Regions from separate parts of the Homo sapiens genome. Here region 1 is linked to region 2. The links come from fine-mapping of genetic effects on gene expression. A gene starts in region 2. The other region holds a variant in brackets. All regions are shown on one strand. Distances are from middle to middle.

The links. PIP is the estimated chance that this variant, and not a neighbour inherited with it, causes the effect.
Region 1: its variant is the best candidate, but not a certain one, in a credible set for the expression of MGAT2 in esophagus muscle (GTEx, PIP 0.70).

The regions. Positions count from the first base shown.
Region 1 is chr14:49,547,045-49,549,950 of GRCh38, reverse strand. LOC107984701 (a long non-coding RNA gene) reads left to right here. Exons shown (of 3, transcript XR_007064154.1): 1 at 1-102. Among named protein-coding and RNA genes, the nearest start is that of RPS29, 38 kb to the left of the region's middle. The variant A/G (reference allele first, on the strand shown) is at 1,726.
Region 2 is chr14:49,619,571-49,622,476 of GRCh38, reverse strand. It overlaps MGAT2 (alpha-1,6-mannosyl-glycoprotein 2-beta-N-acetylglucosaminyltransferase), which reads right to left and starts at 1,678. Exons shown (of 1, transcript NM_002408.4): 1 at 1-1,678. The coding sequence starts at 1,208. RPL36AL (ribosomal protein L36a like) reads left to right here and starts at 1,851. Exons shown (of 2, transcript NM_001001.5): 1 at 1,851-1,915. RefSeq lists silencers at 1,187-1,296, 1,597-1,806 and enhancers at 1,028-1,578, 1,967-2,076.

The sequences.
Region 1 (2,906 bases), 73 kb after region 2:
ATGAAAGCTCTACGCCCCTCCCCTGCACCTTGACCAATTCATCTCTTCCATCCAGCAGTCCATCTGTATCCTTTGAATATCCTTTATAATAAGTGGGTAAATGTAAGTAAGGTGTTTCTTTGAGTTCTGTGAGCTGCTGTAGCAAATTAATCGAACCCTGGGAGGAAGTCATGGGAACCCTGATTTACAGCCTTTTGGGCAGAAGCACAGGTCACAACCTGGGGCCTGCAATTGGCATCTGAAGTGGGAGGCAGTCTTGTGAGAGGAGCCCTTAACCTGTGGGGCCTGATGCTATCTCCAGGTTGATAGCATCAGAGTTGAATTGAATTAAAGGGCATTTATTTGGTGTCTGCTGGAACACTGATTGCTTGATGTGTGGGAAGAAATCCCCAAACACCTGGTGTCAGAATGTTTTGTTGAGTCTATGAGAAAAGGAAAAACACTTCTTTTTTTTTTCTCTATCTCTAAGAACCACAGTTCCTGGTGTGTAGAGAATAGTCTGTACGTGATAGTTATTGCTACTACTGCATTTTGTTTATGTAACTTTGCACTTAAGTATACACATTTCTTTAAATCCTCACAACATTTTATCAGGTAAGTATTATTGTCTTCATTTACCTATGGTTGAGACTAGGTCAGACGGGTCATCAGCTTGAAGTGGGAGCCTGGAACTCATCCAGACCCAACTCCATGTCCAGAGCTCTTCCCAGCCACCATTCTGCTTTCCAAAAACAAGAAAAACTGCAAATGAAGAACCTTGGGTTCTTTTTGAAATGCAAGCAATTCTAAACTCTCCAAGAAGTAAAACCTCTTAAGGCAAGACAAGGTAGAAAAAGATGTCCACTAGCAAACCATTCAGAGAGCTGGGGGTCTGTAGGATTAGGGAATACTTATGATTCAGGTGCACAGTATGAACTGCCTGGAGGAGTGGGCAGAGCGTGGCTCAGTCCAGGATCTTGGTGAGCCTGCTATAAGGTCTTTGAAGGCAGATATCATCATCTTTGTACTCCCTGTCTTACTGCTTGGCACAGTAGGTGCCTCATAAGTGTTTGTTGACCTGTACGTACTAATACCCTATGAAAAAACTTCTATTATAATAACTATGTTGGGATGGTGTAAAAATTACTAATGTGAGAGTGTATTAGTCTGTTTTCACACTGCTGATAAAGACATACTTGAGACTGGGCAATTTACAAAAGAAAGAGGTTTATTGGACTTATAGTTCCACATGGCTGGGGAAGCTTCACAATCATTGTGGAAGTCAAGGAGCAGCAAGTCATGCCTTACATGGATGGCAGCAGGCCAAAAGAGAGCTTGTGCAGGAAAACTCCCCCTTATAATAACCATCAGATTTTGTGAGACTTACTATCACAAGAATAGCTTGGGAAAGACCTGCCTCCATGATTCAGTTGCCTTTCACTGGGTCCCTCCCACAACACGTGGGAATTCAAGATGAGATTTGGGTGGGGACACAGCCAAACCATATCAGGGAGTATTCACGGACATTGCATCCCCTATCCTGGAGCCCATTGAAAGAATTCTGCAGGGGCCAGCCCTAGTTTCCTATTGCCTTCTCTGCTGGTAAGTTTTCCTCTCTCTCTCTCTCTCTCTCTTTCTCTCTCTGTGTGTGTGTGTGTGTGTGTTGGACAGTTATAAATTAGACCCCCGTATTTTTCTGCTCAGGCTGCCATAACAGAATACTACAGACAGAGTAGCTTAAACAAT[A/G]GAAGTTTATTTTCTTATAGTTCTGGAGGCTACCAGTCTAATATCAATGTGCTGGTCGAGTTGGTTTCTGGTGAGAGTTCTCTTCCTGGCTTGCAGATGGCTGCCTTCTCGTTGTGTCCTCATAGTGCCTTTGTGTACATGTATTTCCAGTGTCTCTTCCTTTACTTTTTTTTTTTTTTGAGACAGAGTCTTGCTCTGTCACCTAGGCTAGAGTGCAGTGGTGTGATCTTGGTTCACTGCAACCTCTGCCTCCCGGGCTCAAGCTATTCTCATGCCTCAGCCTCCTGAGTAGCTGGGACTACAGGCATGTGCCACCACGCCTAAGTTTTGTATTTTTAATAGAGATAGCTTTCACCATGTTGGCCAGCCTGTTCTCGAACTCCTGACCTCAGGTGATCTGCCTGCCTTAGCCTCCCAGAGTGCTGGGATTACAGGCATGAGCCACCATGCCTGATCTTCTCTTTCTTTCTTTTTTGAGACGGAGTCTTACTCTGTCGCCCAGGCTGGAGTGCAGTGGCACGATGTCAGCTCACTGCAAGCTCCGCTTCCCGGGCCATTCTCCTGCCTCAGCCTCCCGAGTAGCTGGGACTACAGGCGCCTGCCACCACGCCTGGCTAATTTTTTGTATTTTAAGTAGAGATGGGGTTTCACCATGTTAGCCAGGATGGTCTTTATCTCCTGACCTCGTGATCTGCCTGCCTCGGCCTCCCAAAGTACTGGGATTACAGGTGTGAGCCACTGTTTCTGGCCCTTTTTTTTTTTTTTAAATAAGGACACAAGTTCTATTGAATTAAGCCTCCTTCCTTACAACCTTATTTAATCTTAATTACCTCCTTAAAAGCCCTATCTCCAAATACAGTCACATGGGGGGTTAAGGCTTTAATATGTGGATGGTGGAGGGGGAGCACAGTTCAGTCCATATCAACTCCCTTCAATGCTAATTGACATGTGTGGAGAAAATCTCTTCAAAAATTATTCTGACTACTAACCACTGTACTTTGACTGTGGCACAGTTCCAGGGCAGGCCCATGTGGTTTGCTAGTGCTCACCTTTTTCTACCTTGTCTAGCCTTAAGATGTTTCACTTCTTGGAGGGTTTAGAGTTGCTTGCAGTTCAAGTCTATACCTTACTAGAGTCACAAAGTGTCCTAAGTAGCAGAGCTGCCTTTGTGCATACCAGCA
Region 2 (2,906 bases):
TTGTTATTATTTAAGAGTGACTCAATTTGGGCACTCTGAGTGGATGGTCTACAGGTTTTCTTGTGATGCATACCACAGTCTCCAGCATGAAAGATCCTAGGAATTTGAGGAACCAGCACTTTCCAGAATTTTGGAAGACAAGATACAGTCAAGTATTGAAGAGTCCAGTCCCAGTTATAATCATCATAAGTACAGAAAGTGTCTGTGCACTCGATCAGCTTCTGATAGGCATTCCGGGTCAAGGCTAGACCCATATTGTGCTCTGTGGATTTCCAAGTTTTCACATCTACCTTGTCAGCCATGCCATAGAAACTGCGACTGGCACTATAGGTCCCCAGGGAGAGAACATCACATTCAGGGCACTCTTGCTGCTTCAGTTTCCACATCTTTTTGAAGACATGGTAAAAGTCTGGGGCTAAGTAGTGATCCTCTTCTAGGAAAAGTATAAGGCCAGCATAATCTCGAAGAATTTTCACTCTTTCCCACACAAAATGCAGCTTCCACCACCAGTGATGTTTGGTCTGGGAGAATTTGGCCTCTCTATAATGGCCGAAGGAGTCGGGATACTCAGCATTGATGCACCCCAATTTCAAAGCGGCATTCTTCGGCAGGTCTCTGGGACAATCTCTAGGGTCACTACCTGGAAACTCGTTAGGGTACAACTGAATGCTGAAAGGAAAGAACACCTGCAGAACCGGACAGAAATTCACCCCGGCGATCAGCTGATTGATCTCGGTCGACCAGAAGTCATGGCTAAAGATGACGAGGACGTTGTCAATTCCCTGGGCTTTTCGAAGTGAGTCCAGCAGCAGTCTGAGGTATTCGGGCCGGTTATGCACCTGGACCACCAGCACCAGCTCCCGGGGGGCCCAGGTGCCAGCCTTATCTACATTCCTCAGGGTCTGATCAAAGTTCAGCTGGTACACCAGGGACCGGTACCGCAGCGTCAGGTTGTCCGCCTCGGGCTGGGGGACCGCCGGGACCAGGGAAGCCGCCGACACGTTGGAGACCCTGCGGATGCCCACAGCCACAGAGGGGTGGTCCCCACCGCGGCCGCCGGCACCCCGCGCGGGTTCGGCGTCCAGCAACGGTGGGGCGAGGGCCTCGTTCTTCCTTTGTCGCCCATTGCTGCTCCAGAGGACGAAGCCGCAGGCGGCCACCACGAGCGTCAGGATTAGCACCTTCCGTTTGTAGATGCGGAACCTCATGGTCTCCAGGGCCGGGAGCGCAGGCGGGCGGGCGCGGAAAGGAGCAGCTGCTTCTGCACGGAAGGGGCGGGCGGGCGGCGGCCGTCGCCTTGGCCTGTCACGGTCGGAACTGGCCCCCGCGGCTGCCCTCGCTAACTCATCCCGGGCCCCGGGGGTCCTGGGGCCCGAGACCTCTCATTTACCCCGCGCCGCCTGCGCTCCACACATCCTCGCCTGGCAGCTACAGCTCGAGCATCGGCGCCGCCGCTAGGAGCCGCGGCTCGGCTTCGTCTCCGTCCTCTCCATTCAGCACCACGGGTCCCGGAAAAAGCTCAGCCGCGGTCCCAACCGCACCCTAGCTTCGTTACCTGCGCCTCCAGCGGCCCTGCGTCCTCTGCGCTCTCATCCTTACAGGGGCCCTAGACGGCCAGAACTGAGCGACGCGGCCTCGCCTCACTCCGGCGGGGACCGTTATGACAACCCGCAACTGCCCCGCGGCACACCGCGGCCCTCCGGCCCACACCCCTCCGGCCCGCCCCTTAGACCGTTGGTTGGTGCTTTCCAGACGCGACCGAAGGCGCCTGACCGCCGTGGCCGGCTGCCTATTGGTTTGCAGTACTGTCGCTCAGGTGCAGTTCCCACTTCCGCCTGTTTCTTCCCTTTCCTGTTAGGCGAGAGCTGCGAAAGGCGAGAGCTGCGAAGGGCCAGGTGTCGGGCGCTGTTTCTCGGTAAGCTAAGAACGAGGCTGTAGCGGCTCCAATAGGAGCCTCCCTTGCTCAGAATCCTGGGTAGGACTAGGCCTTCTTAGGAAAGGGAAGGCGAGACCTATGGCCCTCGCCGGCCTTAGTTCGAGAGCAGGCTTCTCCCTTCAGGAAAAAGGTCTCAGGCATGGCGGCTATAGAATCGCGGGGCGCGCCGGCTTGATAAGGACACGTCAGCCCTCGAGGCTGCTGACGGGTGACTGTGCTTCGGAGGGGAAAAGTGATACTACGCTGATGTGGTTCTCGTAGAAGGAACGGGGCGGGTCGTAACCGTAGCTACAACGTCGCGCGCTGCCCCAGCCATTCTCTAGAGCTGGAAAATGGAGGAGGTGGGTGGGGGGAAGGGGGTCAAAGAAACTCTGGTCCTTAACTTCCTTTTCGGAAGAAAATTAGATGAACCGCACTTTTCTTTTGGAGCAGTCACAATAAATTAAACTCATTTCGTACGGAAAACGGACTGTATTGGGCCTCCTAAAGCTGCTGCTGTCGGTTTTCGTGAGTCTTGTTCTATATGAGAAAAGAAGAATGGCTCGGAGCATTGTTAATTATTTGAGATGTGCAAAATTTGCCGGGCCCAGAGAGACAGCAGTATGGGACTTCAGACACCTCCCCACTTAATGCCTGGCATTTTATTCCTGACTAGCTGCTTCACCCATTATGTCCGCGTTCCTGGAATTTGTCATGAAAAGAATGATGTATAGCCAATCAATCGCTTGTGTTATTTTAATGTAAATTCTTGGTAGACAATTTAGGAACTGCCATTTTTTCCTCTAAAAACCCACTTGCAACTGCTGCTACTCAGGGCATTTTGAATCTGTGCTCTGGGTTGCAATCCTCAAACTTGCCCCAAATAAACATTCTACTTATATGAATTGTGCCTCAGTTCTTTTTTTTTTTTGAGACGTAATTCCGCTGTTGTTGCCCAGGCTGGAGTGCAATGGTGCGATCTCGGCTCACG